Linked DNA regions of Homo sapiens. Each later gene encodes a partner of the first gene's protein in a complex. Each region holds a gene or a part of one and is shown on either strand. Other genes may lie near its edges. A codon is read from its position in the direction of its gene.

Region 1 (13,231 bases):
CTACTCTTTCCTTCCCCAGATCCCACCCTTCAGAGCACCCGACGATAATGGATAGTTTCTAGCAGGGTGTCTGGAATGGGCAAGTACCCCCAAAGTTATAGTTTGTACTGCAAGACTTGAACCCACTCTTTTTCTGCCCTCTATTATTATTTTTGCATTTTAACCATTTATTATTTTGAAAAGAAAAGAGAATTTTTAGAATATGGAAAGAGGAAGTGAATTAATAAAATAGCACACCCTACATAGAGACTGCTAATCCATCTCCAGTCTAAAGATTTAGTAATAGGCAAGAATATACATATCCAGGAATTTCCTTGGTGTTACATAAACAAAGGCGGCACATATGTATATTTTTCACAAAATATTCACTGTTTGAAGAAGGAATTACTCCCTTCAATTGAGTTCAGGCCTGATCAACAAGTAGTGATTGGCCAACAGCTAAATGCAAAGTGCATGCTAAGTCTGGGGATACAAAGATGAATGAGAAAACATTTATGCCCTTAGGAGAAAAACAAATATCTTTATCTCAGAGAATAGAGAAGGAGATTGATTCTCTTTGGGGGAGATGTCATCCTGAAGAGTATAACAAGTTCCCCTATAATTCTACTTTTCAGTACTGTTTAAAATACAACTGGATTTTTTTAAATATGTAAAATTTATATAATTTTACAAATGTCTTTGTTAAGAATTAAAACTATCATTAGTAAAGGACACAGCTGGAAAATTGAAAACATTTTGGTTCTCTACTGTGGAAACAGAATAGAGTAACAGCAAAAAGCGTATTTCTGGAATTGGACCCTGACAACTCTGCTTAAACACTCCACCACTTTCTAGCTATATGACCTTGGGTAAGTTACTTAACTTCTTTGTGTGTCAGTTTCTTCATTTGTAAAATTGGAATAATAGATGCTTTTTTTGAGACAGTGTCTCATTCTGTTGCCCAGGCTGGAGTGCAGTGGCGTGACCACAGCTCACTGCAGCCTCAACCTCCTGAGTTCAAGTGATTCTCCAACTTGAGCCTCCCAGATAGCTAGGACCACAGACACATGCCACCATGCCTGGGTAATTTTTTTTTTAAGTTTTTCATAGAAATAGTGTCTCACTAAGTTGCCCAACCTGGAAAATTGGAATAATAATTCATAAAATCTTCCTCCTAGATTTGTGAAGATCAATTGAGTTAATGTATGTAACGTACTTGGCACAGAGCTTGGCCCATGTAATCTCTCAATGAGTGCTAACATTACTTGTCTCACAAAAAGTTACTTACTTCCGTCTGGCACCAACTCCCTCTCTCACTTCCCACAATCTGGTTACCATTCATTCTTCAGTTCTCAGCTTAAACAATGTCTTTTCCATATGGTTTCATTGACGCCACTTTGGGAAAATAGATGTCTCTTCTGCTTGCATTTTCAGACCTTTTTAGGTGTATACCTTAGGGCATTTGCTTTACTGACCAAAATTATTTGCCGGCTACTCTGTGCTTTTCATGACACACTGAATAAGACAGGAAGAGTGTTTATCTATGCTCAACATAAGATAGGCATATAATGGAAGCTTCGTATATATTTGTTGAATAAAAAACATAAGGGGAAAATATCAGATCTAATAATGCAGGACAGGAGGCAAGATGGAACGGAGAGAACCTTGTCTGAGAAGAGACATAATTAAAACAGGGCATGGGAGGTAATAGAAAGATTGGAGGAAAAAGAGACAGAGAGACAGAAATGTTTGTGGTAATTTGTGACAAGTAGCTTTGATTGTTCATGGCCTAATCTTTTAGGGCATGAGGTTATTTCATTCTCTGTAGCCCACCGAGAGTGCGTACAGTGACACATGTTATGTAAGTCCCCTTTTCCCTTTTTATAAATGTCTAGACCCCCTGTGATTTGAGACTTTTCTAGAAGAATTTAGCTGAAGACCATATTGTTTTTTAAATGTAGTATTTGGAGCCTAGAGGTGCCAGATAACTTCCTGCAAAGCTAATGCATTTATTTTGGGAATATATAAGCTCAGTATCATCATTACCAACAGTGCTCAGACTTGATTTTATTTTCATTCCAACAGCAAAGGAAAGAAAGCAACTTCTTTCATGCTTCCATGCCACTCTGCATCTCTCTACCTTCACAGAGTTTCTCAATAATGGCAACATTTCCAGTTCACCAATGGACTGAGAGATCATTGAGGCTAGACTAGTCTTATTAATCCTTATACCCCAGCTCCTAGCCGAACTCCTGGACACACAATAGATACTCAGATACATTTACTGAAATGCATATAGAAAGTTACACCTGCAAAAAAGATGATCTCTCACCAGGAATAAGAAAATATAATCTGGGACAGCCCATATATGAGATCTCTAAACAACCTACCTATAACCACCAAGAAAAAAAAATACCTGAGTTTGAGATTTATTTTTCCGTCTCATTTTTAATATATTCCAGTTAGTGAAAGAGCTAAAATAAATGACAAGAAAAATTTAATCTAGGTATTTAAACAGAATTATTCTGAATGTTGTGAGCTACATTTCTTTTTTACCTTTTATTTATACATAGTATTTGTATATACTTATACAATATATTTATTTTGTATATATAAATATATTGTATTTATTTATACATGTAAATGTATAATATATTTATTTATACATAGTATTTATATATACATAGTATTTGTATATATTTATAGGGTACATGTAATATTTTGTTACACGCATAGAATGTGTAATGGTCAAGCCAGAATATTTAGAGTATCCATTACCTTAAGTATTTATTATTTCTCTGTGCTAGGAGCATGTTAAGTCCTCTCTTTTAGCTATTTTGAAATGTACATTGATGTTAACTATCATTAACACAGAGTAATTGATATGTATAGCAAATAATATTTGCAGTAGGATATCACATGTTTACTTATTTATTTATTTATTTATTTTTATTATACTTTAAGTTCTAGGGTACATGTGCACAACGTGCAGGTTTGTTACATATGTATGCATGCGCCATGTTGGTGTGCTGCACCCATTAACTCCTCATTTACATTAGGTATATCTCCTAATGCTATCCCTCCCCCCTCCCCCACCCCACGACAGGTTCCAGTGTGTGATGTTCCCCTTCCTGTGTCCAGGTGTTCTCATTGTTTAATTCCCACCTATGAGTGAGAACATACGGTGTTTGGTTTTTTGTCCTTGCGATAGTTTGCTGAGAATCATGGTTTCCAGCTTCATCCATGTCTCTGCAAAGGACATGAACTCATCCTTTTTTTGGCTGCATAGTATTCCATGGTGTATATGTGCCATATTTTCTTAATCCAGTCTATCATTGTTGGACATTTGGGTTGGTTCCAAGTCTTTGCTATTGTGAATAGTGCCGCAATAAACATATGTGTGCATGTGTCTTTATAGCAGCATGATTTATAATCCTTTGTGTATATACCCAGTAATGGGATGGCTGGGTCAAATGGTATTTCTAGTTCTAGATCCTTGAGGAATTGCCACACTCTCTTCCACAATGATTGAACTAGTTTACACTCCCACCAACAGTGCAAAAGTGTTCCTATTTCTCCACATCCTCTCCAGCACCTGTTGTTTCCTGACTTTTTAATGATCGCCATTCTAACTGGAGTGAGGCACTGGTCTGAAAATATCAATTCATTTAATTCTTTTAACAACCTTAAGGGGATATCATGGTACAAATTTAGAGCTTTCTTTTGTGTTTGTAAAATGGATTGATTCCTTTTCCCTACATCCAGCAGAAATATTTGAATTGAAGAGAAGAGTAATACCTAAGAACTAGAAATTCCTTTCTTATGTTTCAAAAGATATCAAAAGATCTAAGGAAGATATTCACATCAAAAATGAGTATTATAATATTTATTATCTATGGTGCACTTGCAAAAAAGAAAACAAGTAATAATCTGAAGATTTAAGTGAATATTTTATGACATTGGAGTACCACATATTTAGAAGAAAGCACCAGAGAAATCATAGATAGAAGGAAATGGAATATTTGTAGGATCAAGATAAATACAGCTTGTCATAAAATAAAGCAGGTATCAGGATAAAATCTTGAAAATATTTTCATTTCTCGTTATTTATAACTTCAATTTACTGTGATGATTAATTGTAGGTGGAAGATTTACGAAGAGAAGACTGAAGTATAGACAAGTTGAAGTGCCACAAAATGAAAGCTAATGACACTGACTACTTAGGAAATAGCAGACTGGGTCCATATTTATAGATTGTCAATGACAAGGAATTTGCAGATGTTAATGAATATAGATCCGAACTTAAGTTGCAACAACCTTTCCCACTTTGAGATGAATAGTGCATGGAAGAGTAAAATGCAGATGTTAATAAATCAGAGGAAGACATCGTGCCAGAGTATAAAGTTGACAGATTTATGCCGATGAACTTGAACAAAGCCACAGAAGGCCTACTTGTCAAATTTACTGGTGACAACAGGTCTGGAGAAATGGCTAATGTTTTGGATAATAGCATTAGAATTTAAGGTCTGTTTAAACTTCAAATTAACAGAATGAAATTAATATATGCACATATCAATTGGGTCTTTTGCTTATATATCATCTCTTAATAGAGCCTTTTTGAACAATCATTTCTAATGTGACCTTTGGGATTTTCTACTCATCATCACCTCATCCTGTTTGGTTTGCATTATAGCATCTATCCCTTCCTAACGTTTTCCCTATGTATTTGTTAGTTTGTTTTTTTTTAATCTAACTTTACTAGAAAGTAAAATGCATGGAAACAGCAACCTGTTTAACTTTGTATCACTAAGAGTGGAAAAATAACCCTCAGGAAATATTTGGTAAAATAATAAAATGCCCATTGATGCCCTTCTCTTAAAAAGAAATTTAATTAGTGCAGATTGGGGAAATACAACAATATTTCTCATAAAATGTGATATCTATACAATAACAGAAGTACTATGTCCCAAAAAGTATTCTATAAATAGAAGAAAGAACAGATGGTTTTGCTGCTGATTAATCCATTTATCTTTCGTAAATCATCTAATTTCCCCAGGAACAGCTTCCTCATCTATTAAAGGGGGTTAGTAATAGCTAAGCCCTCAGGGGTTTAAAAATGCATATGAAATAATTTTATAAACCATAAAGCACAAAACAAATATGAAAAATTATGATTGGAGGAGGGGGTGGGGTAGTTAACTAAATCTCAGTGTAAACCACCAATGTCTTGTGTGTGTTGAAAAAATAATTACATATAAAAACTGGTTGCATCCAAAGAATAATGTACTTTTTGCACTGGCAAGACTCAAACCATATTATTGTTACTTCCTCCCAGTTACATATTTTGCAAGATATTGACAATTGTCTAAAGGAAGACCAAACAGATGTAGGTGGGAGCTACTGTCATTTGAACAACATTGAAAAGAAAAATACTAAAAAAGAAACATGAGGGCATATAAAGGAGCGCTGGGGCTGTGATGTTTATTTTGAATCTGTGAAGCATTGTCATGTGGAAGATTTATTCTGTGTAGCACCAAGATGCAAACTAGGAATTAGAGGTAAAAGTCTCAAAAAGACAAATCGTGGCTTGAGACCTTGGTTTAATGTAAGAAACAGTTTTCTCACCCTTAGAGCACTCCCATAAGGATGGAAGTAGTGAATTGTGGTGGTCACATTCAAGCTAGATGGGGACATGTCAGCAATGTTATCAGGAGGCTTCTACTCTGAAGCTGAAGTTCAGACAAGATTTCCAGGCTCTTCCCAAGTGCAAGATTGTAATTACTTAAATGCAATATTTTTACCATGTTTATTAAGAATAAAAGGATCATGAATTCACATTCTGACAAATGCTAGAATACTTATTATTAGAGACAAAACCAGTGCATGAGAGAATGGCAGGTGACATCAGCCCTGAATCAATGGGAAGAAAGACCCAATGGGATGTGGTATTTACCAGAGAGAGCACTTCTGCTTAGATTGCTACATCCTACAGTGAATGTTTAATATCATTGAGTATATTGGTGGTCTGTCATGCTTGACAACATTAACTATGATCATATTTATGACACTTGGCGTCCTTCAAGAATTTGTAGCTCTATTTCACATGACACTTAACTATCGCAAATACAAATTCCAGCTAAATAGACCCTTCAGTTTAAAAACAGTCTCATTCTCAAATTTTAAGGAGAAAGTGAAGACGGAGATGTCTTAAAGACTCGGCAAGTACTAAGTTGGCAAATGTCAAATGTTAAAATAAGTTTATATTAAATGTTAAAGTGTTTGCCTGGAATGACTTTTCCATTGTCCTGCTTGAGAAACACAGAGGCACCTCCTTATTGCTTTTATATTTGCTTTACAAAGACAAATGTATCAACATGCTCTGTATTAATTGTATGTTGACATTTTTGTCATATCCACAGACTGATGCATGTCTGTGCATGGTTTATAATAAGTGCACGTAAAAATAGAGAAAATAAGTAGAAAAAGAGAGAGATTTAACTCTCACCCCCCACCCCCCAAAAAAACAGATTAAATTAGTTTTCATTACTTTTTTTTTTTTCTTCAGCTTCAGCTCTCCCTCAGCGAGGGAGGAGGCTGTGGGCTGCGGACTGAGTGCTGGAATGAGGAGTAATTGAGCTTCAGCTGAGCCGGACGTAGCTTTCTCCTCCTGGTGTCATTGCTGCAGCCTCCAGTGCCGGGTCCCTAGTTCCTCAGCTGCCTATCTTCCCGGTGCAACATCGCCTGTAAAGACAGCAAAGCCACCGCAGAAGTTGCCCGGCAGAAGACTCCGGAGGCATTGGCTCAGTAACTTTTCACGTCATTTTCTGCTCGGGAGCCCCTTCTAGCCTCTCCGCGCAGCCTTTCCCACCGCAAATCACCAGTGCTCATGGGGCAGGCGGAGAGGAGCTTGCAGCATTGAGCGGAACCGGACTTGAGCCCGTGATGTCCGGCACCAAATTGGAGGACTCCCCCCCTTGTCGCAACTGGTCATCTGCTTCGGAGCTGAATGAAACTCAAGAGCCCTTTTTAAACCCCACCGACTATGACGACGAGGAATTCCTGCGGTACCTGTGGAGGGAATACCTGCACCCGAAAGAATATGAGTGGGTCCTGATCGCCGGGTACATCATCGTGTTCGTCGTGGCTCTCATTGGGAACGTCCTGGGTGAGTCTCCTCCCGGGCAGCCCTCCTAGGGGCTATCACCCCCTCTCCGCCCCGGGCTGAGAAGGCTCTAAAGAGACCCCTCCCTCCCCCGGGAAGCAAACAAAGAGGTCGCTGCTCTCGGATGGGGTTTTCTAATAAAATAATAATAATAATAGAAAGTTTTCTGATTTTCCGAACCGGGACCGAGCCCTGGAAAGGTTATTCCCTGTTTTGCAGGAATAACGGGGAAACCGCGTTTCTTTTTCGAGCACCTAGATTACAAGCGCAGGGAGAGGGGCCGCGGCAGGGATCTCCAGGTGGATTTTGTTGAGTGTGTGTGTGTGTGGGTGGGTAGGTGGGGGAGTCAGTCATCCCTTTGTGTAACGTGGCTGGGTGTTTCAGGGGGGTTGGGACGAGACAGAGCTTGCAGAATACAAAGCTACATCCCTAAGGAGCAAGCTCTCTGTGGCTGTGGAAGTCACAAAGCATTTGTGAGCTAGGTGGCATTGCCCTTTGGCGAGGAGGTTTAGTCTCCAGTCAAGAGGTGGTAATGAACCAGCAGGGAGTGGAGACGGAGGCAAAGCAGGGAAGTGCACTCACTCATAGAAGCTGAATTAAACAGGATCCATGCCTGGAGCAAGAAGGAGGGGCATCGGAGAAAAGTACCACAGAGATCTCAATCATCCATCCATCCATTCATTCTTACATCCATTCAGCCAAATATTTTTTTTTTTCAGTCTGCTTGTTGCCAGGCTCAGGAATTATTCATGTCAACTGTTTGTTGTTGTTTTGTTTTGTTTTGTTTTCTCCAAAGATGAGACTAAGCTTAATGCTAGGCTATTTGTCCCGGTCTAGGTCTGTATGCAAACACGGGTTTCCTCGACCCCTCATCCCCCTCCCCCTAAACAATTTCTGAGGGTTGGGGAGGGGGTGAGATGGCAACATGGTGAGTGCGATGATGGAATGTATTAGGGCAGTTGGGGAATATACCTCCAGAAAAGGGGCTTTGGAAGGGAGGGATAACTTGAAATAAATTGTGAATGGAAGGAGAGTGTACCTTGATGAATGAAGAGTAGAAGGCTGGGAGACTTTTCACATGCAGAGGGCAGTGTGGAGGAAGTCTCTGCTGAAAATGACAGGAGATGGAGGAGGCTAGGAGTTGCTCTTGATTTTCATTTATAAAAGAAGAAGAAGGTGAGTGAGGTGAGATAGGCTGGGAGGCTTTGCAGTCAAAAGCAAAGAACTTGTAGCTGCAATGGGGACTGACAAGGAAATTATCAGGCTTTCAGACTAACCTGATTTTTGCCTTCTCTCCCAAGTGTGTTGGTCTGGGTAGAAATCATCCCGAGTAGTCTCTCACCAACTCAGCAGGCAGAATAGATGATAGTATGTGAATGACAGGAGTTCTCCAGAGTGTTGGTAGAATGTTATTTGAGGAGACAAGAAACCTCTGAGAACTTTAGTACATTTTTAAATATTATTTTTAGACTGTTTTCCTTTGGTTGATTTAAAAGTAAAAATAAAGGAAATCTTTTTGGGATACTAACAAAATGAAACAAAAGTGGAAATACACAAGATTAGGATTCTTGTTATAAGCATAATTCTGTTGATAATAATCCTAATCTTGCTTTCCTTCTTCTTGTTACCCATCCTTAGGATTACATCTCTTAAGACACATGGCTACCAGCATAGCAACATTTTACTGCATTATGCCAACACTTATTGATAAGTGAATAATCAAAATTGAACATATATTGAGTACCTACTGTGTGCCAGAGCCCTTCATGTACATTCTCTCCCTTAAATATCAAAATAACCCACATTAGCCAGAAGAAGAAACAAGACTTAGAGAAATAAAATGACGTATTAAGGGACATAATTTAAATTCAGTTCCATTTTTTCTGACCTCAGATCCAGAATTCTCCATTGTTATTCCACTCTAGAGCTAAAAAGCATATAGAGAATAGATTCTCTGCTCCTGATTGTCTGCAAGTTTATTAGATGTGTTCCTGTTCTCCTCTGCATCAACGCCCACTGCCAATAAAGTACAATGAGGGATTAATGGCACTGTCATTCTCTTCACCAAAAACCTTTCCAGAGAAGCAGTAATTTTTTTATGAATAGCTATCAATAGTAACTATTTGCCTTCCTTATTTTAATTTTCGGCTGAATCTTTGTGGTAAAATGTGCTCTTCTTTGTTGTTATTGCATTTTTACCTTGCATAGACCTTGTAGTGAATAGTCTCCATATCCTAATTGCATAGTTTAGGGATACATGTTTGCTAGCCTGGGGAGTTTTAGTTTCAAGAAGGAAACACCTCTACAGTAAGGCTACTTGTTTCATAATGTCAAGGAAGATAGCACTGTCCACAGCCCCAAGTGCTGAAATGGCCAATTCCATTCAGCCTAAAAAGAAAGATTTACTCAAAGCACTCTGCCTTAAAGAAACTGACAGCTATTTTCCTCAGGACTGAATAACACTGAAATCCTCTCTGGTTGAACTGAAATGCATTCTTTTCTGACATACTGCCTGAAAGTTGATGAGGTTTAGGTTTGACATTTAAACAAACGAGTAGTGTCGTTACTCACAGACAACTTCCTGCTCTTTGATGTCACTGTCAAATTTGCAAAATGAATTAGATTGAGAATTGCTTCTTTGCCCCTCTGGTATAAGTAATTTTGCACATAGAGTGGTAGGACAGGATGTCACATGATTTATGCAAAATAAAGATGCAATATTAAGTATGAAGGTAAAATACCACAGTGTAGGCAGCAGATGTAATCACTGAGCCTTCAGGTCCAGTCACCATTTGTACTTTCATATAACTGCTTGGAAAATCTCAACCTTTTTGGGCTTACAAATATAATGCCATCAGTTAGAAGTCATCTTCTCCACAATGTCCTTTCATGAAGTGATGTAATAGGATATGCTGTGGGTAGCATAACAAAGTCTTGATTGTCCTCATCTCTTTTTCTTCTCCCCATAGTCCCTCTTTATCACTATGCCACCTCTCCACTCTCATATACTCCTCCCAAAGATGGAAAGCAGTTTCCTGGGGGAGTAAAGTTTTAAATAGAATGTTATGAGTATTTACATTCAATGAAAAGCTGTAAGCATGTTTAATGTGAAATTTTAAGTTCTAAGGAAGGAGCATAGGGTAAGGTTCTTTTTGGAAGGAGTATCTTTTCAGTATCTTCAGAATAATGCCACCTATAACCTATTCCTAACTATGTCTTCTACTACAGCTAAGTAGATGTATCAACTTATTCAATTGGTATATTGTGAGCATTATCATTTTTTTAAATTAGTGTGTATATCAGGGGAGCCTCTGGGGAAATGTAAAGAAATGTGACTGATGTTAATTTTTACTCCTGATTCCTTGAATGACAATTGTAGGGAGAAATGTGTTCTAGTCAGTTTAAACATTAAGTACCTAGGGAAAATGATCAATTTTCTGCTTCTCATATCTGCATTCAAAGATATCATATGTTTCATCTGGTATGCTTCTGTCATATCTGTTGTTGTCTCCATATGGAAAATAGGAAAACATCAGTCTAGCTATGCTTCTTGCTTCTTGTGTGCCATTAGCAAGTTATTGAACTATCCAAGTCAATTTTTTTATAATTACAAATTAAAGATCGATAATGACTGCATTATAGAAATAGTATCAGGATATAATGTACGTATACCCTCTATAAAGACATATAAAGGGACACAGGCATATACATATTTTTCTTGACACATAGACACTAATTAATGTCAATTTTTATCCCTTAATTTTCATGACTGAACTTTTTGTGATGTGGTGTATAGCCAGCTTCTGCCTTCATGGGCCAGTCTGTATCTCTGTAGCTCTTTATGGCCTCTGCCCCAGCCTTTTCCTTAATTGCATATTTTCCTAAAAGGTGTGAATAAAATGGTGTTGGCACACATTACTCTCCTTTTCCACACTAGCTCCACCCACCCATCTCCTTCATACTGATTGCTTAACATTGCCTTCTTGCCTTTAAATGAAAGCCATTCCTAACTATTGGAATAGTTTGCTTTCTCTCTCAACTTAAATTTGCCTGTGCTGGGTCCCATTCATTTAGAGTTTTTGAGTTGTTAATAGGTTGTTGATAGGCAGGTCTATCACTACTAGTGTTTTAAATAACACACACATTGGTAATATGTTGATTTAACTCATACATTGTTAAAATACATTGTGAAGTATTCATAGTTAAAATAAATTATCCATTAAGTAATTTACCTAATAACAGTTTACCCAAGTTAGGTGTGTGGAATGGGGAAATATTTGTAATAAGTTTGCTTCCTACAGAGTTAGTCTTGTGTCAGATATGTAAGTGGTAGAATTGCAAGTTCATGTTACTCCTAAGCCTAGAGACATTTATTTTCTGCTTCTCCGAATGCCCATTTTAGTTTCATGGGTGTTTGTAAACCCATCCTTACCTACACAGGAAGCAAAAAGGGGTTATTTCTAAACCCTTTTTAGATATAGAAATAATACATCACTCATCTCGGCCAAGACTCAATAGAATCATGAATAGTGACTGTAAAAGGTAATATTAACTATTAGGCTTTAAACCTATTGTGCATTTTAGTTTTAAAATGCAAACATGCTAATCTGAATAAGAATTAATCTGATGCCTCTACATTTTTGCTAAAATCATAACTGTTTAGTCTTACTTAGTAAAATAAATTATATCTTTGACTTAAAATCCCAATGATAACTTTTAAGATGGCTATTTCATAGATAACAGCAACATTTATCATGGACAGACAATAATGAGAATAACATGTGCAACTGATAATTTAAATGCAATGAGTTATTTCTGTATTTGAAAAAATATATTTGGGAAATGGGATAATTAAAAAATACCAGTTTTCAAGAGACCAAATCTAAAACTCAAACATAAACACAATGCTCCAGTTTTTAGAAAACTGTCTTGATTGTAGTAGTGCCTACATACTAAATTGTATCATATGATTTATATTAATTTTCCTTATTTTGTATTTTAGATTATATTTGAAAATTTTCATGTACTGCAGCTATGTTAGCATCTCAAAGTCTCCATATTCTCACTCCGCTCCGAAACATCCACTGCTGATGTTATTTAACTAGTGAAAGAAGATCCTTCCATGTTTCTTCTTATAGCATTCTGACATCTTCTCCACCCTAAGGAATGCTGGCTTTATTAAGTATGTTTCAGTCAATGACATGTGATTGGTGAAGCTGACGGTATTTGTCTTCAGTTCCTTTTTTCCCTGCAAAGGAAATTTGTTGAATATTTATTGGGTACTATATGCCAGGTACTATATGTCAGGCTCCACTTACATATACTCTATTGATGCCTTACAACAAACTTATAATGAGAAGATTAATAGGTTTTACAAATAAGAAAAATGAATTCAAAGAGCAATGCTAACTTACTCAAAAGTTTAGTCAGGCAGTAAATAGCAGCACTAGGTTTCAAATATGGATTTAACAAATTCCATGGTCCATGCTTATTCCATTACTTCATCCTGCCTCTTTCCTTAGCTTCTAACCCTGACTGGAGATGCATAGGCAAAAAGAGGAAGGAAGAGATACTTAGATGTGCCCTCTAGACAATTTACAGAGTTGTTTGGGCATGTTGCCATGCTGTTTTTCTGATAGACTACAGTTCTTCAGCTCTGAGGATGAGCTCATTTGATAAGCCAATCAAGGTCGGGCTAGGGTTACTTTACAAGAGAAAATTTCAAGGTAAAATAGGTGCTGCCAAAAATGCTTTTACCTGTTCAGGGGGTTGACTCACTGGAAAAAAAATGTTAGATAATTGTGGCCAAGGATTATTTTGTTATTGAAAGTGCTATTTTTAGACACAATTTGAGCCTGAGAGCCTAAACACTTAACACTTCACATAATCTACAGATATTTGTTTATTTTTCTTTTTGTCATGCATTGCCAAATAAATAGTATTTATTTAAACAAATCATGTTGCTATTGATTTTATTAAATAGATGAACTTTTTTTAATTTTTTTTTTTTGAGATGGAGTCTTGCTCTGTCACCCAGACTGGGGTGCAGTGGCACAATCTCGTCTCACTGCTGCCTCCACCTCCTGGCTT
Region 2 (11,820 bases), on another chromosome or scaffold:
GAGAGGGGTGGCGGAGGAGAAGCTCCCTGGGGCTCTGGGAGGGGAGGGCTAAGTCCCACAGACACACACCTGTCCACACAAAACTTCTAAACACATGTAGCCTGGGCACAGCCACACACGCCTCGTGTGCACACTCACAGTCACACACCAGCTCACTCAGGCTGTTCTGTTCCCAGCTGGACCACTGCCTTCAGGAAGCCTCTCCCCGCTACAAGTCCCTGCGGTTCTGGGGCAGCGTGGGCCCTGCCAGAGTCCACCTGGTGGGGCAGGGAGCCTTCCGAGCACTCCGGGCAGCCCTCGCTGCCTGCCCCTCCTCCCCCTTCCCCCCTGCGATGCCCCGGGTCCTTCGGCACAGGCACCTGGCCCAGTGTCTGCAGGAGAGGGTGGTGTCCTGAGTCAAGTCCTGCCCCACCGCCCAGCTCCCCCCAGAGGCCACCTCGCCCCTCCCTCTGGGACCTCTCCGGATGGGGAGTCCTTGGCCAGGGTCTCTGACTCTGTGTCACCTGACATTTGCCCATGAGAGCCGCTGGGCCTTAGAGAGGCCTTGGCCCAGCTGACCGGTTCTGAAGTATGGGCCTCCGGGGTTAGCAGATGCCAGCAGTGCCTGCCCGTGTCCCCATGTCCCGGCATGAAGGACACTGCTAGAGAGTTACCATGCACACCGATGGTTTCCTGTATCACAGCCCAAAGAGGTTCTCTGGTGGCCACAGCTGTGTGCTCAGTCAGTGCACTGGGCAAGCTAGAAGTGTTGGGGGGTTAATGTCCCCAGGAGCAGCAACCCTGAGTCAATAAGGAGCAGGACCTCAGCTTCATTGTCCTTGAGCAGGACAATTCTGAAGTGTATTCTACATAAACTCTCAGAGGATGCCCAGCAGGATGGAGTCCCAGTTGCCCGCAGCAGTAACCCACTCATTCATGTACTTCCTGCGGGGGCTCTCCCTTCCCTCTCTTCCCCACTCCCCCGCCTTGGGCTTCCTGGGATGGCTCCCAAATAAACCTCTTGCACCCAGATTCTTGCCTCAGGGTCTGCTTTGGGGAAACGGGAGTGGACCCCGGCCCAGCCATTCCCCCACTGAGCTCCAGGACTTTCCCCCAACATTCTGCTCTGGGCCTGGCAAGGCTGCATGCGCACACAGGAGCCTTGGAGGACTCGTGGCACATCCTAGGCCAGCACCCACAAACCACTTCTGCGGTGGGGAAGGGAGAGCTATTACTTCACATCATAAGGCATCGCCGCAGGAAGCAACTCCGGAGACCATCTGGGTTCACTGTTCCATACTAATGAGGAAACGCAGCCTCCACAAGGTTGTAGAGGCTAAAATAAAAGAAAGAAAGAAACTGGGCTAGATTTTGGCTTCCTTCCCTCCCACTGCCTGGACTGGAGTTTTAAGGTTTTCCATCTTGGAGGCTGATGGGAGGGGCAGACCTCAGCTCCTCCTCAGTAGAGGCAGCACTGGATCCAGATGCCTCTGAATAGCTTCTCCATTCCATGTCCCACACCCAGGTCCTGGCTGCATACCCACCCGGCCCCCACCTCCGCCTGTCACTCCATCCTGTTAAAATCTTCCTGTGAAGCTGGGCACAGTGGCATGGGCCTATAGTCCCAGCTACTCAAGAGGCTGCGGTGGAAGGATGGTTCATGCCCAGGAGTTCAAGACCAGCCTGGGCAACACAGCGAGACCATCTCGGGAAAAAAAAACAAAAAAAAAAACCTCCCATGGTGGCCCCCATCGCCCACAGGATTAAGACCAATCAATTTGGCCTATTAGACCCTTTGACCTTGGCCCTCACCTACATGTGCAGCTACCTCTCTCCCCTTGCTTGAAAGAAGGCCTGGACTAAGGACCACGCCTCACCTCCCATCTAAGGGTTGTTAAGCACTGTCAACTCCAGGAGTTTGCTCAAGTTGTCCCTTCTATGTAATGCCCTCTATCCCGCTGCCCCTGATGTAAACTAGCTTTCATGCAAGGCCTTTGAGGACCCCCTACCAGGCCCACCCCAGGCAGAGTGACTGGCTCAGCTTTGCTCATGTGGGCAGTAGTCCTCTCCTTCACTGAACTATCATTATGCCTGAACTGCCTCCCACCTGGAATATGAGTTCCTTGGAAACTGGGCTAGATCCTGTGCACAATTGCCCCCATGCCCAGTGCCTGGTGTGGCATGCAGCAGGAGCTCAATAAAGAGGTTGTAGGCCAGGTGCCATGGCTCATGCCTGTAATCCCAGCACTTTAGGAGGTCGAGGCAGTCAGATCACCTGAGGTCAGGAGTTCAAGACCAGCCTGGCCAACATGGTGAAACTGTGTTTCTACTAAAAATACAAAAAATTAGCTGGGCATGGTGGTGTGCACCTGTAAACCCAGCTACTTGGGAGGCTGAGGCAGGAGAATTGCTTGAACCCAGGAGGCAGAGGTTGCAATGAGCCAATATCGTGCCTTTGCACTCTAGCTTTGGCAACAAGAGTGAAACTCTATCTCCAAAAAAAAAAAAAAAAAAAAAAAAAAAAAAAAAAAAAAAAGAGGTTGTGAATAAGAAGCTTGGGCCTGGAGATGACATGTGTTCTTCAATGCATGGCGGCTCACTCCGTGTTGACTGTAGAGTGGGACTACATTCCTCCCCTCCAGGTAGCCTGAGCCAGGGAGAAAGCTGGGGAGGTAGAAGCTTTCTATCAGCCTCTGGTAGAAACTGAGTTTGGTCAGGCACAGTAGCTCACACCTGTAATCCTAGCAGTTTGGGAAGCTGAAGGGGGAGGATGGCTTGAGCCAGGGATTTGAGACCAGCCTGGGAGTCCCAGTCTCTACAAACAAATTTAAATATTAGCCAGGGATTGTGGCATGCATCTGTGTGGTCCCAGCTACTTGGGTGGCTGAGGTGAGAGCATTGCTTGAGCCGTGGCATTTGATGCTGCAGTGAGCTATGATTGTCCCACTGCACTCCAGCCTGGGTGACAGAGTGAAACCTTCTCAAGAAAGAAAATAAAGAGGGCTGGGCGTGGTAGCTCACGCCTGTAATCCCAGCACTTTGGGAGGCCGAGGCGGGCAGATCACGAGGTCAGGAGATCGAGAACATCCTGGCTAACACAGTGAAACCCCGTCTCTACTAAAAATACAAAAAATTAGCTGGGCGTGGTGGCGGGCACCTGTAGTCCCAGCTGCCAGGAGGCTGAGGCAGGAGAATGGCGTGAACCCGGGAGGCGGAGCTTGCAGTGAGCCGAGATCGCGCCACTGCACTCCAGCCTGGGCGACAGAGTGAGACTGTCTCAAAAAAAAAAAAAAAAAAGAAAGAAAAGAAAAAGAAAAGAAAATGAAGAAAGAGAGAAGGCCAGGCATGGTGGCTCATGCCTGTAATCCCAGCACTTTGGGTGGCTGAGGCAGGCGGATCACCTGAGGTCAGGAGTTCCAGACCAGCCTGACCAACATGGAGAAACCCTGTCTCTACTAAAAATACAAAATTAGCCAGGCATGGTGGCGCATGCCTGTAATCCCAGCTACTCAGAAGGCAGAGGCAGGAGAATTGCTTGAACCCTGGAGGTGGAGGTTGCAGTGAGCTGAGATTGCGCCATTGCACTCCAGCCTGGGCAACAAGAGTGAAACTCCGTCTCAAAAAAAAAAAAAAGAAGAAGAAGAAGAAAGAAAGAAAGAGGGAGAGAGTGAGAGAGAGAAAGAAAGAAAGAAATGCAGGAAGGAAGGAAGAAGGAAAGAAGGAAGGAAGAAAAAAAAAGCGGGGGGGCCTGGTGCAGTGGCCCACGCCTGTAATCCCAACACTTTTGGAGACTGAGGTGGGTGGATCACTTGAGGTCAGGAGTTTGAGACCACCCTGGCTAACATGGTGAAACCCTGTCTCTATTAAAAATACAAAAATTAGCTGGTTGTGGTGGCGTGTGCCTGTAATTCTATTCAGGAGCTATTCAGGAGGTTGAGGCAGGAGAATCGCTTGAACCCAAGGCGGAGGTTGCAGTGAGCCAAGATGACCATACCACTGCACTCCAGCCTGAGCAACAAGACCAAAATTTAGTCACACACACACACACAGAAAAGAAAGAAAGAGAAATTGGGCTTGGTTTTGGCTTCTTACCTCCCACTGTCTAGGCTGAGTTTTCAAGGTTTTCCATCTCAGAGGCTAGTGGAAAGGGCAGAAGGGAGAAAAAAAGCTAGGGGGAGGGGGCAGCTAAGGAGCCTTTCCATGAAGGAAGAAGGTCCTGGAGCCTGACAGTCCCCAGGAGCAGCGACAAGAAGCAGGGGAGGGAGAGGACTGCTGCTGGCTGCTCCACCCCCCACACACATAATGTGGGGTCTCGCGTCTGCCTCTCTCCCGCCCCTAATTAGCAGCTGCCTCCCTCCATATTGTCCCAGGCCAGCGCCTCTTTTGTGCTCCCAGATTCCTGGGTGCAAGGTGGCCTCATTAGTGCCCGGAGACCGCCCCATCTCCAGGGAGCAGATAGACAGACAAGGGGGTGATCAGGGGCACAGTGATCCAACCCTGGCCTCTGAACGCCGCAGCGGCCATTCCTTGGGCCCAGCCTGGAGACGGCCCCCCTGCAGCAGGCTAATCTTAGACTTGCCTTTGTCTGGCCTGGGTGTGGACGCAAGTGCCTGTCAATTCCCCGCCACCTCAGAGCACTATAAACCCCAGACCCCTGGGAGTGGGTCACAATTGACAGCCTCAAGGTTCCTGGCTTTTTGAACCACCACAGACATCTCCTTTCCCGGCTACCCCACCCTGAGCGCCAGACACCATGAACCTTCCTTCCACAAAGGTAAAGATCCAGGGATGGAGGGGTGACTCACCATCCCAGAGAAGCAAAAAGAGTGCTTGCTCAGAGGGCTGGAAGAAAGGCCAAAGGTGTCTCCACTCTTGGTCTTTTCCTGGGTGTGCTCTGAGGCAGGAGCACCTGCCTTGGCTCACATTGGGTTGGGTGCTGTTTTGCTAAGAGCCTGTGTTTGCTGAGCTCTATGTGTCAGGTGCTCCGTTTGCACCTGTCATCTCTTGTCATCCTCCCAACAGCCTTGCAGAGTAGAAATTATTTCTAGTATACCCAGTTTACAGGTAAGGGAGCTGTGCCCTCTGAAAGGGCAGGAAACTGGTTCAAAGCAACGGAGTTCAGTCACTCCTGCAAGGGGGCAGGCAGATGAGAGAGCATTCTGGAGTCTTGCTAGTTCCTGATTTCCATGTGTTTCCCTGCTGTGGAGAGGAAGTTGGGGGGACTCAGTAGGGCCCGGGTTTTTCCCAAGTTTACAACTTCTGCTGCAGACAGACACTCCTGTTTTCAGGTGGAGTGGCAAGTGCCCTAGTGGTGGCACAGTGGCCTAAGTCTCCAGAGAAAAGGGGGATTCACTCTGCCCAGGGGGTCTCAAAAGGCTTCCTGGGGGAGATGCTCTGCTGGGTCTTGAAGGAGGAGCAGGGAAAGTAGGCCGATACCAGCAAGGGCGCAAAGCAAGGAGAACTAAGTGACAGCCAGAAAGGAGTGCAGGCTTGGAGGGGGCGCGGAGCCAGAGGGGCAGGTCCTGGGCGTGGGAGCTGGTGGCGGGCGCCGTGGGAAGACCCCCCCAGCGCCCTGTCTCCGTCTCCCTAGGTCTCCTGGGCCGCCGTGACGCTACTGCTGCTGCTGCTGCTGCTGCCGCCCGCGCTGTTGTCGTCCGGGGCGGCTGCACAGCCCCTGCCCGACTGCTGTCGTCAAAAGACTTGCTCTTGCCGCCTCTACGAGCTGCTGCACGGCGCGGGCAATCACGCGGCCGGCATCCTCACGCTGGGCAAGCGGAGGTCCGGGCCCCCGGGCCTCCAGGGTCGGCTGCAGCGCCTCCTGCAGGCCAGCGGCAACCACGCCGCGGGCATCCTGACCATGGGCCGCCGCGCAGGCGCAGAGCCAGCGCCGCGCCCCTGCCTCGGGCGCCGCTGTTCCGCCCCGGCCGCCGCCTCCGTCGCGCCCGGAGGACAGTCCGGGATCTGAGTCGTTCTTCGGGCCCTGTCCTGGCCCAGGCCTCTGCCCTCTGCCCACCCAGCGTCAGCCCCCAGAAAAAAGGCAATAAAGACGAGTCTCCATTCGTGTGACTGGTCTCTGTTCCTGTGCGGTCGCGTCCTGCCCATCCGGGGTGGCAAAGCGTCTTGCGGAGGACAGCTGGGCCTGGAAGCCCGGCTGTCGGGCACCAGCCTTAGCTTTTGCGTGGTTGAATCGGAAACACTCTTGGTTGGGGAGTTCCCAGTGCAAGGCCCTGGGGCACAGAGAGAACTGCACAGGTGCATGCTTGGATCGGGCCATGCGGGACTCCTACGATGCTCTGCTAGGCATTCTGTAGCGGGGACTTTACCCAGAGACGCGGAAGGGGAAGGAAAGCAAGAAAGGTTGCAGCGGTCGGGCGCGGTGCTCACGCCTGTAATCCCAGCACTTTGGGAGGCCAAAGCAGGAGGATCCCTTGAAGCAAGGAGTTCGAGACGAGCCTAGGCAACATAGTGAGTGAGACATCTCTCCAAAAAGTTTTTTTAATTAGCGGGGTATGGTGGGCGAGAGGATTGCTTGAGCCCAGGAGTTTGAGTTTGAGCCATAATTGGGCCACTGCACTCCAGCCTGGGCAACAGAAGGAGGCACTGTCAAAAAAAAAAAAAAAAGAAAGAAAAAGAAAAAAGAAAAGAAAGAAAGGAAAGAAAGGAAGGAAGGAAGGAAGGAAGGAAGGAAGGAAGGAAGGAAGGAAGGCAGGCAAGCTGCATAGAGCAGCAGAATCCAGCTAGGAAGGGGTGGGAGTCAATCCTGCTGAAAAGGCAGGGAATTTGAACTTCAACAATGAGTCATCCAGAATGGCTGCATCATGGGGTATAGGGTGTGGGGAGTGGAGAGGCTCAGGAAGGGACACAGTTACAGTCAGTGCAGCACAGCTCGCAAAGGCTCTCACAAATCATCGGGCTTTGCACTTTATCTTGTAGGTAACAGAGTCATGGGACATTCTTAAGCAGGGGCAGTACAAGATTTTACTGCAACTCCAGCCAAAGACACCTGTTACTGGTGTTCCCAAAATCCATATGTTGAAGTCCGTACCCGTGGCACTTCAGAATGTGGCTGTATTTGGAAATAAGGTCCTTCCAGATGCAATTAGTTAAGATGAGGTCATACTAGAGTAGGGTGGGCCTCTAATCCACTGTGACTGGCGTCCTTATAAAAAAGGGAATTGGAACACAGAAACACACACAGGGAGAACCCATGTGAACATGAAGGTAGAGATTGGCTCCTACAAGCCAAGGAACACCAAAAATTGCCAGCACCCCCACCCCCAGAAGATAGGGGAGAGGCATGCAACAGATTCTCCCTCATAGCCTTCAGAAGGAACCAACGCTCTTCACCTGACCTTGCTTGGACTTCTAGCATCCAGAACTGTGAGACAATAGGTTTCTGTTGTTTGAGCCACTCACTTTGTGGTACTTTGTTATGGCAGTCCTAGGAAACTAATATAACATCCAAAAGTAGAGACACAGGCTAGGCTCCGTGGCTCATGCCTGTAATCCCAGCACTTTGGGAGGCTGAGGCGGGCGGATCACTTGAGGTCAGGAGTTCAAGACCAGCCTGGCAAACATGGCGAAACCCCATCTCTACTAAAAATACAAAAATTAGCCGGGCATTGTAATGCACGCCTGTGATCCCAGCTACTAAGGAGGCTGAGGCGGGAGAATTGCTTGAACCCAGGAGGCAGAGGTTGCAGTGAGCTGAGGTCATGCCACTGCACTCCAGCCTGGGCAACAGAGCAAGACTCCGTCTCAAAAACAACAAGAACAAGAACAACAAGAACAACAACAACAACAAAAGTAGAGACACAGAAAAATGTGGCACTTCTTAGCAATCTAACATCCCAGATAATACCTAGCTCAGAGGGTGGGGAGAATTTAGCCTGCCCTCCTTGCCCATAGGGTTCCCACTTTCACTGCTTCAGCTGTTTTGTCGTGGGAAGCAGCCACCCTCAGCCACAGAACTCAGCTGCCTCAATTTTCTGCATAGGTAGTGAGAAAGTCCTGTGTCTAGTCTCACTTTGGTCCCTCTTGCTGCTGTACTGGTTCCATCTTGGAGAAGTTAGAGGTCAAAGTTCACATGTGCATCCTTGGAGATTTGCAAGCCATGACTCTGCCCACCTCGAAACTATCTTTTTCAGAGGTAGTTTCTCCCAAACTTGCCTCCAGCCTCTCTTCCACTTGAAGGGCAGCAGAGAGGAGGATTAAGACAGTAGGAAGAGGGAAAACAGGCAGGCAACTGCCCTTCAAGACACTTATTTTGTACCAAAGACATGCATTATGGTATTACATTCTCACGGTAACTGCATCAGGTAAGAATTATCAGCTCCATTTTACAGATGAGGAAAGTGGGCTTGGAGAGGATATCACACGATTGGTGTCTAGAGCTGGGACTCTACCTGGTGGACTCCAAAGCTCTTTTCATTCCACCATGCTGTGTCTCAGTAGGCAGAGTTCGCCAGGGTGTCTTGGGAAAACTGAGGCAGGAGGTAAGAATGGTGCTTTCTAGAGTTGGGGTTTCAAGCCTTCCCATTGTCCATTCTCTACCAGCAAACTAGCCTCTTAACCCTTGCTGTCTCACGCTGGAGCTACTGGCCTGTGGGTGCTGCGAAATATGTCAACTCCAGTAGGCGGCACTGTGAACCAGACACCAGCCCAGCGTGGACGCCGCGCGGGAAAACCCGCGAGGTGGAGCCACAAGGAGCAGCCAGGGAACCACGTGTGGAGGCGTGGCCAGCCTGGAAGAGGGCGGGTCTGTTATTCAAGCCCCGCCCATCATTTCAGGCCTCCCCTCCCGGTGGGCGTGCCCCGAATTCTCTCCCCGAGAGACACGCGTGGGCCGCTCCCCTCTGGGAGGAGGGCTGCCCAGAGGGGTGCGGGTGTCGCTAGCGGCCCCTCCCCGTGTGGGGCCACGTGGCGGGTGCGGGCCGAGCCCGAGGGGAAGAACCTGGCCCGTGGGGAGGTGGGGGGGACCGAAACGGCGCTGAGCCGAGCCGAGAGCTACGGGGTTCGGAGCAGAGGCAGCGGCAGCGGCAGCGGCAGTAAGAGGGAGGGGAGGAGGCAGGAGGGCGCATGGGGCGCCCCGGCCCCTCCGACAGCGCGCCCCCTCCGGCCCGGCCGCGCTGAAAGCTCCCCAGCGCCGCGCCTTGAACCCACGCCCCGGGGCCATGCCGGTCATGAAGGGGTTGCTGGCCCCGCAAAACACCTTCCTGGACACCATCGCCACCCGTTTTGACGGAACGCGTGAGTGGGACGGAGGTCGGGGCTTGAGGTTCGAGCTGGGGGGCAAGTATCCTCGGGGCCGTCTCGGATCTCCTGGACATGGTGAGACCCGAGGCGAGGGGAGAGAATGGAGGTGCGGGTCTAGGAACTCCCAAAGCCGCGGTGCAGGAACAGGGCGGGGAGTGCCCTGCGAGGGGAGGAGGGGAAAGGGCCGAGAGCACGGGGGCCAAGGTTAGGGGGTGTGACTCGAGGCAGAAGAGGCTCTTTGTGCGGCAGAGCGGAGGAGGGTCCTTCGGAGCCGCCCACTCTCGGGCAGAGCTGTGCTGGGGGCGTGTATGGGGGTATCCGAGACACAGAAGTGGGGCAAAGTGGCCGGGCATTCTGGGGTCTACTCACAGACTCCAGCTCCCACTACCTCCAGAAAAAAAGGAGAAAAGATCAGACTTCAGCAGGACCTAGTTTGGATTGAGGTCGCGCGCCCCCAAATCGTGGGGCGTCAGTGTCTAAGGTGGGTGAGGCAGGAGGAGGGGAGCGGTCTGTGCGACGGTGGGAACTCCCAGCTCGCCCAACGTAGCTTGGGTTTCAGGTTCAGCACCTTGGACAGCCACATCACTCCTCCCCCGCCTCTTCTCCCGCCATTCCCTCTTCCCACTCTGGAACCCAGAGATTCCCCGCCCTCACCTCCCCCAACCCCGCCATTCCCTCGGGAACCCTGGCCGGGATCTGGATGGTGGGGGAGCGGTACCCGAGGGCGGAAACTGAGCCGCCGGGCCCTACCCTCTTCCCCACCACCTTGTTTCCATAGCGCCCATCACCGGGGCAACAGGCCCTGGGATGGAAGAAGGAGGCTGTGCCCAGAGCCCAGTGCCTCCCAGGCACCTTCAGTGTCCCCATCAGCCTCCCTGCCCCCAGACAGTCATCCCTCCTAGAGCACCAGGACTGGTTGTGTCACAGGCCCCATCTCTTAGCTGAGTCTCTGTCCCTGGATGGCCCACAGGAGTCCCCCTGGCCTCCCACCCATTGGAGCTGGAGGGAGACAGCTCGGGTTCTGCTGCTGGGGGTTGCTGGAGCTATACGCTCAATGCCCTCTCCCATTAGACTTTGAGCAGTGGGGCAGATCCCCTGAAAGCAGCTACAAGAATGCTAAAAAGTGGACCTTCTCTGGAAGGCAGGGAAGGAAGACAGCACTCATCACTGTCTGCCCCCACACTAAGGAGATCTGTGAGTTTGGATAATCTCTGCCTTTTGGTTTCCTATCAATAAATGGGTGTGGTGTCATCAGAATCTCTGCCCTGCTTACTCTGTAATAGGAAGAAAGCCAAGTGAATGTGGGGAAAAAATTTCACCTTCTCAGAGTAGCACTTACCATGTGCTAGGACTTGTTCTCCCCAAGTTAACTCATGTAACTCTCACAACGACCATGTGAGGAAGGCCTATTATGCCCTACTTTGCAAATAAGGAAAGCTTAGGCACAGAAGAGGTCATCAACTTGCCCAAGGTCACACAGTTAGTAAGTGGCAGTGGAGGGTTGCAGGAGCCCAGGCTCTTACTCACCATGCTATACTGCCTTCTACAGTGACAGCTCACCAGTTGGAAGGCAGGGGGATGGATGGCATGACCTCCTGGGGTCCTTCTCCAACTCCCCGTTAGACCCTGCTTAAGTCCTGTCTCAAGTCCTTGTCTCTTTGCTCCAACTTCTCCAATTCTCAATTCAGAATATCCCAAAGTGGGGTCAGGAGCAACATGGAAACCTGGGAAGCTTCTGGCTCTGTGACTTCTAACCCCAACTTAGAGGAAGTGCTGCCCACCTGGAAGCTAGCTCGCCTCCCAGCCTTGACCTGACCTTGACCTCTTCTTCCCACAGACAGCAACTTCCTGCTGGCCAACGCACAGGGCACACGGGGCTTTCCCATCGTCTACTGCTCCGACGGCTTCTGCGAGCTCACAGGCTACGGTCGCACCGAGGTCATGCAGAAGACCTGCAGCTGCCGTTTCCTCTACGGCCCAGAGACCAGTGAGCCAGCCCTGCAGCGTCTGCACAAAGCCCTGGAGGGCCACCAGGAGCACCGGGCTGAAATCTGCTTCTACCGCAAGGATGGTGAGGGGGCTCACCCCACCCTGCAGCTCTGCCTAGACCCCTAGCCTTATCCAGAGGGCACTGGGCACAGTAGGAGTCTGAGTGCTTGTCCCCACACTGCCAAAAGCTGACTGTGACGGAGCGTATCCCTGACCTCTCTGGTCCTGGGTTCCCCCATTTGAAAGATGAAGGAATCGGCTGACAGAATCTCTGAGGTTCCTTTTGGTTCTTGCTTTGCCAAGCTCTTAACTATGTCTAGGAGGATGAGAGGGATGAGGAGAAAGGCATGCCATGGGGCTGCCCATGCTCCTCCCTTCCCTCTCTCCATGCCTACAGGCTCAGCCTTTTGGTGCCTCCTGGACATGATGCCCATCAAGAATGAGATGGGGGAGGTCGTGCTGTTCCTCTTTTCCTTCAAGGATATCACTCAGAGTGGAAGCCCAGGACTTGGCCCCCAAGGAGGCCGCGGGGACAGTAATCACGGTAACAGCAAGTCCGGACGGGCAGTGTGAATGGTCAGAAGCCTTCGCCTAACC

The links.
Region 2: the proteins of HCRTR2 (region 1) and HCRT are in contact, whole or in part, in a cryo-EM structure (PDB 7L1U), measured with the Homo sapiens proteins. Residues at the interface, in NP_001371201.1 of Homo sapiens: Thr111, Val114, Trp120, Pro131, Gln134, Thr135, Val138, Gln187, Val209, Cys210, Asp211, Phe227, Thr231, Ile320, Ser321, Asn324, Lys327, Arg328, Phe333, Ala334, Thr336, Arg339, Val342, Tyr343, Phe346, His350, Tyr354; in NP_001515.1 of Homo sapiens: Asn89 (codon at 5,813), His90 (codon at 5,816), Ala91 (codon at 5,819), Ala92 (codon at 5,822), Gly93 (codon at 5,825), Ile94 (codon at 5,828), Leu95 (codon at 5,831), Thr96 (codon at 5,834), Met97 (codon at 5,837).

Annotation. Positions count from the first base shown.
Region 1 is NC_000006.12:55,167,667-55,180,897, forward strand, and holds the start of HCRTR2 (orexin receptor type 2), read left to right. Parts: upstream 1-6,848; 5' UTR 6,849-6,921; coding exon 6,922-7,144; intron 7,145-13,231. UniProt on the Homo sapiens protein: Nonselective, high-affinity receptor for both orexin-A and orexin-B neuropeptides. Triggers an increase in cytoplasmic Ca(2+) levels in response to orexin-A binding.
Region 2 is NC_000017.11:42,178,278-42,190,097, reverse strand, and holds HCRT (hypocretin neuropeptide precursor precursor), read left to right. Parts: upstream 1-4,645; 5' UTR 4,646-4,732; coding exon 4,733-4,753; intron 4,754-5,569; coding exon 5,570-5,944; 3' UTR 5,945-6,038; downstream 6,039-11,820. Other genes in the region: GHDC (GH3 domain-containing protein isoform 1 precursor), read left to right, coding at 177-395; voltage-gated delayed rectifier potassium channel KCNH4, read left to right, coding at 9,153-9,228, 11,072-11,305, 11,621-11,767. UniProt on the Homo sapiens protein: Neuropeptides that play a significant role in the regulation of food intake and sleep-wakefulness, possibly by coordinating the complex behavioral and physiologic responses of these complementary homeostatic functions.